Regions from separate parts of the Homo sapiens genome. Here region 1 is linked to region 2. A link means that fine-mapping ties the variant in region 2 to the expression of a gene that starts in the linked region. Tissue or cell type: whole blood. Region 2 holds a variant in brackets; the other region holds the start of a gene. All regions are shown on one strand. Distances are from middle to middle.

What was found. PIP is the estimated chance that this variant, and not a neighbour inherited with it, causes the effect.
Region 1: ZC3HAV1 starts here. The variant in region 2 is fine-mapped to the expression of ZC3HAV1 in whole blood (TOPMed, PIP above 0.99).

The regions. Positions count from the first base shown.
Region 1 is chr7:139,107,788-139,112,909 of GRCh38, reverse strand. It overlaps ZC3HAV1 (zinc finger CCCH-type containing, antiviral 1), which reads left to right and starts at 3,190. Exons shown (of 13, transcript NM_020119.4): 1 at 3,190-3,886. The coding sequence starts at 3,579. RefSeq lists enhancers at 3,082-3,241, 3,034-3,537, 3,482-3,581, 4,162-4,291.
Region 2 is chr7:139,058,736-139,063,938 of GRCh38, reverse strand. ZC3HAV1 (zinc finger CCCH-type containing, antiviral 1) reads left to right here. Exons shown (of 13, transcript NM_020119.4): 9 at 2,801-2,903. Among named protein-coding and RNA genes, the nearest start is that of MIR10399, 17 kb to the right of the region's middle. The variant A/T (reference allele first, on the strand shown) is at 2,590.

The DNA of each region.
Region 1 (5,122 bases), 49 kb before region 2:
CTGAGGTGGTGGCCAAGGGTGAGAGGGATTGGAATGGATAGTGGTAGAGGGATATGATGAGGACCAGACCACCAGCTGTGGCCTTGAGACCAACTGCAGTGACAAGGACTATAGTTCATTCCACTAATTTCTCTCTGGTAAGCTTCCTTGTAGGAAGAGTGACCCTGAAAAGCCTGTTCCCTAAATACAAATGGATAAAGAAAGCCATGTAGTACAAAGGGTGGACTACAGCTGACACAGGGTGGCACTCAGGTCAAGCTTGCAGCCCAGCTTTGAGGAGCATGTTTAGCCAATATCCTCCAGCTTTAGCTCTTTCAAGATCTGCCCCAGCATTCGAGCTGAAGTCATCCACTTCTCTGGTGGCCCCCACCGGTGACTGAGCAAGGCAGTACAAGGGCCTAGCCTTTTCTGTCCAAAGCTGGACTCCTACTCCAGAGCTCCTCATTGGGCTGGCAGAGACTTTGTTAGGTCCGCACAAAAGTCTGATAGGCCCCATGGATCAATCATGCTTTTTCCTTTGACTTTTTCTGGCATTATGCCCCAGAAAAAGTGCAGAGAAAGTTCTGCACTCTTAACTCCATGTCAGGATCTCCTTCCTGGAGAACCCAATCTCTGATGGCACATATTTCAAAATTTTTCAAAATGTCTCCTTTTCCCTTCCCAGAACTCCTTAAATCACCTTTCTCTTTCACTTTCCCTTTCTTTTTTCCTTTCACTTTCCCTTCTTTTTTCCCCTTTTCCTTTTCCTTCCTTTTTTTCCTTTTCCTTCCTTTTCCCCTTTCCTTTCCCTTCTTTCCTTTCCCTTCCTTCCTTTCCTTTCTCTTCCTTTCCTTTCCCTTCCTTTCTTTCCTTTCCCTCCCTTTCCCTTTCCATTTCCCTTTCTCTTTCATTTTCACTTTCCCTTTCCCTTTCTCTGTCACTTTCCATTTCCGTTTCCCTTTCCCTTTCCCTCTCTTCCCTTTCCAAAAGGATCTTCCTCTGTTGCCTTTGCTGGAGTGCAGTGGCACAATTGTAGCTCACTGCAACCTTGAACTCCCGGGCTCAAGAAATCCTCCCGCCGCAGCCTCCCAAGTAGTTGGGACTACAGGCACATACCACTATGTCTGGCTAATTTTTATTTTTAGTGGAGATGAGGTCTCGCTATGTTGCCCAGGTGGATCTCACAGTATGTTGCCCAGGATGGTCATGATCCTCCCGCCTTGGCCTCCCAAAGTGTTGGGATTACAGGCACAAGCCACTGCACCTGGCCCTTAAATCATTTTTCATGGCTTCAAATTGGAGGAGATTCTATGTCTGTACTCCCAACCACTGTAGCCAAACTAGACTCTTCAGTCTCTCATCTTCTATATTCCCATTGTGGCATTTACCCATGAATTTGCTTATATTTCCATGCATTTTTTCATGTCTTCGCATACATGCTCCTTGAGTGCAGGGACTGTTTTTTAAACTTCTGCATGTCCTTACATTACTAACTAATGTAAATACCACATAGAAGATAGTCAATAAACATCTAGAACTTAGTTGATTTGATAATAAAAGGTCCCTGGGAACCTGTCAGACCACAAATAAGGCCAAGTGGATTAAAAGACAACTATAGAAGCAGCAACTAGAGGGAACAAGATGTCCCTCTTAGACATCCTAAGATGATCCTATGTGGCCCCCATGTTTGGCTGGTTTTCATAACAAAGTACTCTATTCCTGAAAGAGGGTTTATATACCATGAATGACAAAACTGAGGAGAATTCTCATTAATCATTTTGAAGAATTTCTAAGTTAGCAACCAGAATCTATTATTTTTTAAAAAGATGTATTTCTTATCTGATCAAATGACCCATCTATTTTATTTGAAGATGTTGGAAAAAAAAACCTTTTTTCTCTTCAACTTGTGTCCTGTCTTTGGGGGCCTAAAAATTAACTGGCACTAGACAGATAAATAGGAGAAAAGACAAAGTTTATTTACACATGCATGCAGGAGCTTCCAGTAACAGAAAACTCAAAAGTAAAGGTTTATATACCTCAACTTAACAAAAAGGAAAGTTTTAGGGCTTCAGTAGGAGAGTTTGGAAGTTTTGATTGGGTTGTTTTGTGTTTTTGAGACAAAGTCTCAGCGCTATCCCCCAGGCTGGAGTGCAGTGGCACAATCCCGGCTCGTTGCAGCCTCCTCCCGTGCTCAAGCAATCCTCCCACCTCAGGCTCCCGAGTAGCTGGGACTGCGGCTGCACACCACCATGCCCGGGTTGTTTTTATTATTATTATTATTATTATTATTATTATTATTATTATTATTATTGAAGAGAGCTCACTATGTTGCCCAGGCTAGTCTTGAACTCCTGGGTTCAAGCAATCCTCCCACTGCCTCGGCTTCCTAAAGCGCTGGGATTACGGGCTGAGCCACAGCACCCAGCCCATTGGGTTTTTTGGTGCTAATGGTAATGGGACAGTCTGTCTTCCTGGCAGCTGAATACTCCGAGAGGCTTTTAATGGCACCATGTTTTCGGGAGGTTTTGCTTTAGTCAGATAAGGGAAGTTTCATTAAGATTTCTTTCTACATCTTCTGTAGCTCAATGTTTTCACTTAAAAACAATCTTTATGTCAACTCTGGGGGTCAAAGTACGTCCCCACGGTGGAAAAGTTCTTGTCCCAATCTCTACGGGGAGGAACCGATCTGAAATCTTGGGATATGTCTTAGCATGTCCACCGTGATTGAGGTACAAGCAGTGGTTCAGGGCACCGAGTTAGCGATTCTAGGTAAGCAAGACCATGTCAAGAAGTGGTTTGTCCAAAAGTTCGTGAGAAGGCAGAAACGAGGGAGAGTGGCAATCGTTGTTCTTTAAGAGGGCACGGTGGTGGAGGAGAAACTTGCACATCGGGGCCTGGGGTACCACGATCTGGGGCCTGGGGACGCGATTTGGGGAAACTCGGTGGCATCTGGGCTCCGCTTGATGCCAGTGCGTGTTCGTGCAAGTTACTTCCTCAAGTTCAGGGTGAGGATAATAATATCTACCATGTGGAGTTGCTGGGAAGATTCACTACCAACAGAGGCAGAGCGCACGGCTCGCAGGAAGCGCTCGCTAGGGTCTGCTCTTTCCGGGAATGGGTGGGGTGCGCACTCCTCAACAGGGCTCTCAGGACTTGCGTCACACGCCTCAGTCGGCTGGCTTATAAAACACCGGCCAGAGCCCCAAGATCGCTTTTAGTTTCTCTTCTTTCTAAAGAAGGCTCGCGGAGCCCGGCTGGAGAACCTCACCCTCGCCGAGCCTAGAACCGAGAGGGGGCCACCCCAGGCGGTCACCAGCAGATTTGCCCGCGCGTTCTCTTTCTTTCCACCCAGTTGCCCTTGCGGCCGGCTGTAAACCTGCCACTAGGACCCGGTCGGTGAGATCTAGCCTCTTGACCTGAGAGCCGAGAGTGGATCGCTGGGCTGGGCTAACGGCGACGGAGAGCGCGCCCTCGCTGACTCCGGGCGCGCCCAGCAGTAGCACCGCCCGCGCCCGCCCCTGGACACTTGTAAGTTTCGATTTCCGATTTCCGCGGAACCGAGTCCCGCGCCGCGGCAGAGCCAGCACAGCCAGCGCGCCATGGCGGACCCGGAGGTGTGCTGCTTCATCACCAAAATCCTGTGCGCCCACGGGGGCCGCATGGCCCTGGACGCGCTGCTCCAGGAGATCGCGCTGTCTGAGCCGCAGCTCTGTGAGGTGCTGCAGGTGGCCGGGCCCGACCGCTTTGTGGTGTTGGAGACCGGCGGCGAGGCCGGGATCACCCGATCGGTGGTGGCCACCACTCGAGCCCGGGTCTGCCGTCGCAAGTACTGCCAGAGACCCTGCGATAACCTGCATCTCTGCAAACTCAACTTGCTGGGCCGGTGCAACTATTCGCAGTCCGAGCGGTGAGTGCACCCGGAGGGAGGGGCGCTGTCCGCAGCCGTGGTCGGGGTGGACTGTCCAGGCGGGCAATGTTCTGGGAGGGGCACGGCTTCGCCGGGACCCCGCACCTGACAGCCTCCGCCTCCAGCCACTCCCTTCTCTGCTCCCCTCTGGGAGCCTCTGCAGGGCCCGCGCTTCTACCTTTGCAGTTCCCTTCCTTCCGGCACCTCCAGACATTTTCTCGAGAATGGCTAAAATGCTAGTGCCTGGAGGAGACCAGGCTCAACCTCCACCCCTTTCCCCGCCCGCCCGCACGAATCAGAAGAATAAAGTGCTCTGGAGCCAGCCAGGGCCTAGAGAAGCGGTAGGCAGGTTTGGGAAGGAAGGAAAGAGCCTCCCGTCTTTGGTATCTTGAGTCTTTCCCTCCCTACTACCTCCTTCCCTAGACGTGGCGGAGCCAGTAACCCAGCCGCCCTGGGCCCCCGGTCCGTCTCCGCCGGAGCGAGCCGCAGGTCTCTCTGCTTGTCCCTCCCTTCCCGGTCACCCCCATGCCCCTCATCACCGCTTTTCTGATGCCTGGCGCGTAGCAGGGGTGGCCCTTTTCCAGGTTCCTGAAGTTGTAGCAGCCGCGGGCCTTCCCTCCGGGTGGTCTCTCTACGGTGGCGCGCGCAGTTGACCGCCTGCCTTGGGACAACTCTCTTAAATCCCTTTGAAGCAGTGTGGCTCACGTCTCGGGCCACTGCTTCTGTTGTTTCCGTTTGCCTTTTTTTTTTTTCGTCTAAATGCAGATGCGCTGCAAGGTTTGGGTTAAGACTCTTGAGTGATTTTCTTCCCAGTTTCTCCCTAAGAGAGCTTGCTCCCTCGAGGACAGCTGCACATCTAAAAAGATGGCTTCCAGGTCCACATTCGCTGCCCAGGCCTTTCCCTTGATCCCAAGCCCTTCCTCTCCCGCGTGTGTCCTGTCCATGGAGTCAAACTCATCTTTTCCCCCAGGCAGGGTTTTAATCCTCCTCACAATCTGTCATCACCAAGTCCTTTTTGTGAAGTCTCTTTCCCTTCTTGGCGGATTCTGCCTTCCCATCTAATTTCTGAATGAACTGAATGAACGCCTTGTTGAATTAATGAATGGCCAGTCTTTCCTCCCACCCTTTCTGTCACTATGTGCTCTGCTCAATTACTTTTCTCGATACAGTACTTTTTACACTTGGCCCATTCTTAAACACTTTGACTTGTGTCCCAGGGTTTAAAATGGTTGTCAG
Region 2 (5,203 bases):
CCGAAGAATACTAGACCAAAACCAGTACCTATAGTACTAAAAGTAGGACCAGTCTGTACCAGTGCAGTGGTGACTAAATAAATTAGGGTATTAAATTTCAGTGGCGTATCTGGCACTTGTTAAAGATTTTGATTATGAAAACTAGATAGGAAGAGCAAAATTTGGTGTTGTTAAATGAAAAAGGCAGAACACTTTTTTTTTTTTTTTTTTTTTTTGAGACAGGGTCCCACGCCATCACTCAGGCTAGAGTGCGGTGATGCCATCACGGCTCACTGCAGCCTCAACCTCCCTGGCTCAAGCGATCCTGTCACCTCAGCCTCCCAACTAACTGGGAGTATAGGTTCATGCCACCATGCCCAGCTAATTTAAAAATTTTTTTGTACAGATGGGGATCTCACTTTGTTGCCCAGGCTGATTTTAAACTCCTGAGCTCAAGCGATCCTCCCACCTCAACCTCCCAAAATGCTTCGATTACAGGCATGAGCCATAGTGCTCAGCCAGAACCCCAAATTTATGTTTCTGAAATTTTGTTTATATTTAAAATAGGAAAGTTAAAAAAAACACAAAAATCAATGTGCATGATAATTGCAGCAATGCATGCATGTGGGCCGACTGGAAGATAATAAAGAAAAATTAAAATCTCTTCTATTGGGTGGTAGAATTAAAAATGACTTAAATTAAAAAAATTCTTAGGTGGTATTGTATTGTTTTTATGGTTTAAAAGGGTGGTGGAGAGATGAGAGCCAATAGACTTTGTTCCTGAATCTAGAGCAATTTGTCCAGCTACTTCTGTTTGTTTGGTTCATAGAAACCAGTTCAGAGCAATTTATGGGTTCCTAGTGTTCCAGATGGCTTTTTCTTTTCTTTTCTTTTTCTTTCTTTCTTTCTTTTTTTTTTTTTTTTTTTTTTTTGAGACAGAGTCTCGCTTTGTCACCAGGCTGGAGTGCAAAGGCGCAATCTCGGCTCACTGCAACCTCTGCCTCCCAGGTTCAAGCAATTATCTTGCCTCAGCCTCCCAAGTAGCTGGGACTACAGGTGTGTGCTACCACACCTGGTTAATTTTTTGTATTTTTAGTAGAGATGGGGTTTCACTGTGTTAGCCAGGATGGTCTCAAACTCCTGACCTCGTGATCCACCTGCCTCAGCCTCCCAAAGTGTTGGGATTACAGGCGTGAGCCACTGCACCCGTCCGCCTTTTTCTATTCCTGAACTAGACTGCAAGTGTATTCTGTCATGCATTAAGCTAGTATCTGAGTGCCAGCTGTGTACTGGCTCCTGTTGTGGGTGCTGGGATACAGTGATGAAGTTGCTCTTCGAGCCTGTATTCAAAAGGGTGGTGAGAGACAATGGTCAAGTAAACAAGTCAGGCCATTTCAGAAAGTGGTAACAGTTACTGAGAAAATGAAACGGTGGAGAAAATGAAACAGTGCAAGGAAGCAGCCAGAAAATGGAGGAGTCAGTGGGACAGCACTTACTTTTATAGACCAGCCTCTGCCTGTGGGAAGGAGGGCGCTCCAGGAGGAGGAAGAACTAAGGCTAAGGCTGGAAGGTACAGACCAGCTTGAAGTTTCACAGAACAGGTAGATGGTCTGTAAGAGATGAGAGCAGTGATAGAAACTTGGATATTTTATTAGGCGGAGGTCCCGGGAAGATTTTGAGCAGTGTTGTGGCATGATCTGATTTGCTTTGTGTGTGTGTGTGTGTGTGTGTGGTTTATGTTTGTTTCATATTTTAAGAGTGCAGTTGGATGAGTATTGACAAATGCGTGTAACCACCACCCTAAGCAGGATATAGAACATTTCCATCAATCCCGAAAGTTTCCTTATGTCTCTTTGCAATCAGTTTCCCCAGCAACACCACATACACCTCACTTTATCCCCATCACAGGCTATTGCTGATTTGCTTTCTGTCCCTGTTTTACCTGTTCTAGAATTTGATATTAATAAACGCTTGCAGTAGGCACATTGCATGTGGCTGACTTCTTTCACTCTGGAATAATGTTTTTTAGACTCAACCGCGTTGTTGCATGTATAGTAGTTGTTCCTCTTTTATCACTGAGGAATAAGTAATAAGTTATTGTAAGGCTATTCCATAGTTTATTTGTTTACCAGCTGATGGACACTTAGGTTATTTCTCCTTTTTGGTTATCATAATAACGCTGCTGTGAGCATTCACGTGCACATCTTTGTGTGGATACAGGTTTTCATTTCTCTTGGGTAAATACCCAGAAATGGGATTGCTAAATCACATAGGAGTGCATATTTAACTGTATAAGAAACCACCAAACTGTTTTCCAACGTGGTGGTTTCATTTTACACTCTCACTAGCAATGTATTATGACTTACTTTCTGAAGGGTTCACTCTGGTTACAGTTTGGACTGAGGTTTACGGCATGAATTGAAAATGATATTTCACACTTGATGTAGAAAAGAACCCTTCAAGACAGCTACCAGATTCCAACCCGTAATCACTGATGTCTGGTGTAGGGAAGCTTGAAAGGATGGTGTCTTGTTATTTGGCTGCCCCAGCTCTCCTCTTTTACCATCCAACTTGGATTTAAAGATGAGATTAATTCCTGAATATTCATTC[A/T]CTCCTTTGCTTTGAGCCTTCTACTAATGGCAGTGAAGGATACAAGTCTTTTACTGTGAGCAATTCTCATCCCAAAGGATTTTCTCTATTCGTATACATACAGGTCAGTCTTGAATATTTGCCGTGTAAATAGCCTCTGCAAAATAACAAGAAGTCATTTTCTAGGGCTGATCTTGATTCTCACTGCTTTTATTTTTTTTTCTGTCCAAAGGGATGATTCAGACAAACATAGCTTCCAAAACTCAAAAGGATGTCATCAGAAGACCAACATTTGTGCCTCAGTGGTATGTGCAGCAGATGAAGAGAGGGCCAGAGTAAGTGTTCTGAAGCAGCTGTTTGCTGACAGATGCTTGAGATGTTCATGCCCTGGGCTCATCAAGTCACTCGTGAATCTGGAGCCTGTTTTCCTGAAAAGTTCCTGTTTGCATTACTCTGCAGTTTCCATTTGCATTATCGATGAGTAAGATGCTTGTTAAGCAGCATGGTGTGACTGAAAGGATACTAGATCGGAAAATGAATTTTCTTTCTGAAAGGGAAGTCTGAGCGAGTCTCCTAAATACTCTGGGCTTTAGCTTCTCCAGCTGTGAAGAGCTGGATTGATGCAGTACACCTAAGGAATAATCATATATACTGGGTTTTTGTTTTGCTGTGGATTCTTTTTTTTTTTTTTTTTTTTAGAGGGGGTCTCACTTTGTTGCCCAGGCTGGTCTTGAACTCCTGAGCTCAAGTGATCCTCCTACCTCAGTCTCCCAAAGTGCTGGGATTACAGGCATGAGCCACCGTGCCTGGCTTTGCTGTGGATTCTTTTGGGTGTCTTTTGTTTTCCTACACGATTTATAGAGGATGAGGGGCGGAGAAAGAGATAGAAAAAAGGGATGAGCTAGCTGTTAGAGCAAGGGTTTTGGTGAGAGATAATATTGATTGAAGGGATTTTAAAGGAAATGTTGCTGTGGGGGATTCATTGTAACTCTCCTTGTGAACTGCTCAGTAAACTCTACATTGTTCATGAACATTTTTGGAGTTGGATATTTTTTTTCTGGGTGATGTGTGATTACATAAAACAGGCTTCAAGAGAAGTATAAAATCAAGGTGTTCTAACTAGGTTCTTTTGGTTGTAAGAATTCAAGCTATTTGATGAAAAAGGAAGTTACTAAAAAGATAAATAACTATGAAGTCATATGGAAAACAACTCGCAAGAATCTAAGAATGGAAACTGAGCTATATCAGGGCCTCAGGAAGGGGAGTTGCTTCCTATTCTGCTTTAGAACTGCAGCAGCCTAGAGTCAAAGATTCTTTCTTGGGACCAGGTTAACAGCCTGGATGCTGGATCTAGCTCACCTAGGTTCAAATTCCACCTTGCCACCCATTAGCTGTGTGGATTTGGACAAATGAATCACTCTGTATATCCTCATCTGTAAAATGGGCTTAATAATAATACCTTCCTCACGGTTGCTTGGGTAACACATTCCGAACACTGATCAGGTGTTCAGAAAATGTTAACTGCTCTGGTTATTATTATTTTTATTCCCCTGCTATTAATAGACTTAGTAACTATATATATAATTAAGTTGACTTAATTCTAATTCATAATTCCAACCTGCATATCTCTTCAGCCTTATCTTCTGCCACTAACTGCCTAATTTTCTCTGAATTTCTCAAGTTGATTTCCCAAGAATTAGAATCTGATTGGTGTAGCTATCTAAAGTCCCTTTCAGTAAATTTTTTTTTTTTTTTTGACAGAGTCTTACTCTGTCACCCAGGTTGGAGTGTAGTGGCACAATTTCGGCTCACTGCAACCTCTGCCTCCCTGGTTGAAGTGATTCTCCTGCCTCAGCCTCCTGAGTAGCTGGGACTACAGGCACATGGCACTATGCTCAGCTAATTTTTGTATTTTTAATAGAGACAGGGTTTCACCGTGAGGGCCAGGCTGGTCTCGAACTCTTGACCTCAGGTGATCCACCTGCCTCAGCCTCCCAAAGTGCTGGGATGACAGGCATGAGCCACTGCACTTGGCCCCTTCCTGTAGTTTAAATATTCAAATTAATAAAGTAAAAAGAATATTTCAGGGTTTAGGGAAGAGAGGAGTAAATCTCATGCCCTCACGGGAGCTTACATTCTGGTGGATGAGGCAATAACTATTTCAGTTCCTGACAAATGTTAGGTGGGGGAAAAAGGCAGAGTAGGAGGATGGGGAGGGGCTGTTCACATTCAGCCAATGAATGAGATCATCAGAGCTGCTTTCCATTCGTTACAATCGTTACAATCGTTCTGGCAGGATGTCTTCACAAAAGTGTGTTGGAACTGTCTTTCCTTAAAGCAACAAAACTGCATTTTTTTTTTTAAAGTTCCGGTAATTTTGATTTTTTAACAATTCAGATACTCCCAGTTAGTCTCAACTAGTGAGACCATGCTTTATGGCCCTTCCAGACAGCAGGAACTGTGGAAAGCATAGTAAACCTTGACGCCAAGCTGGATGGTTCTTTCTGTGCACATGTATTTCTAGGGGAAAAAATTGCTTTGTGGCATTTCCAGATAGCTCCTGTAGTCAGCCATTGTCGATCTCAAGAACTTCCATATGTCAGAGTTGCTTCGTGCTTTTCCATTTGCTCTTCCC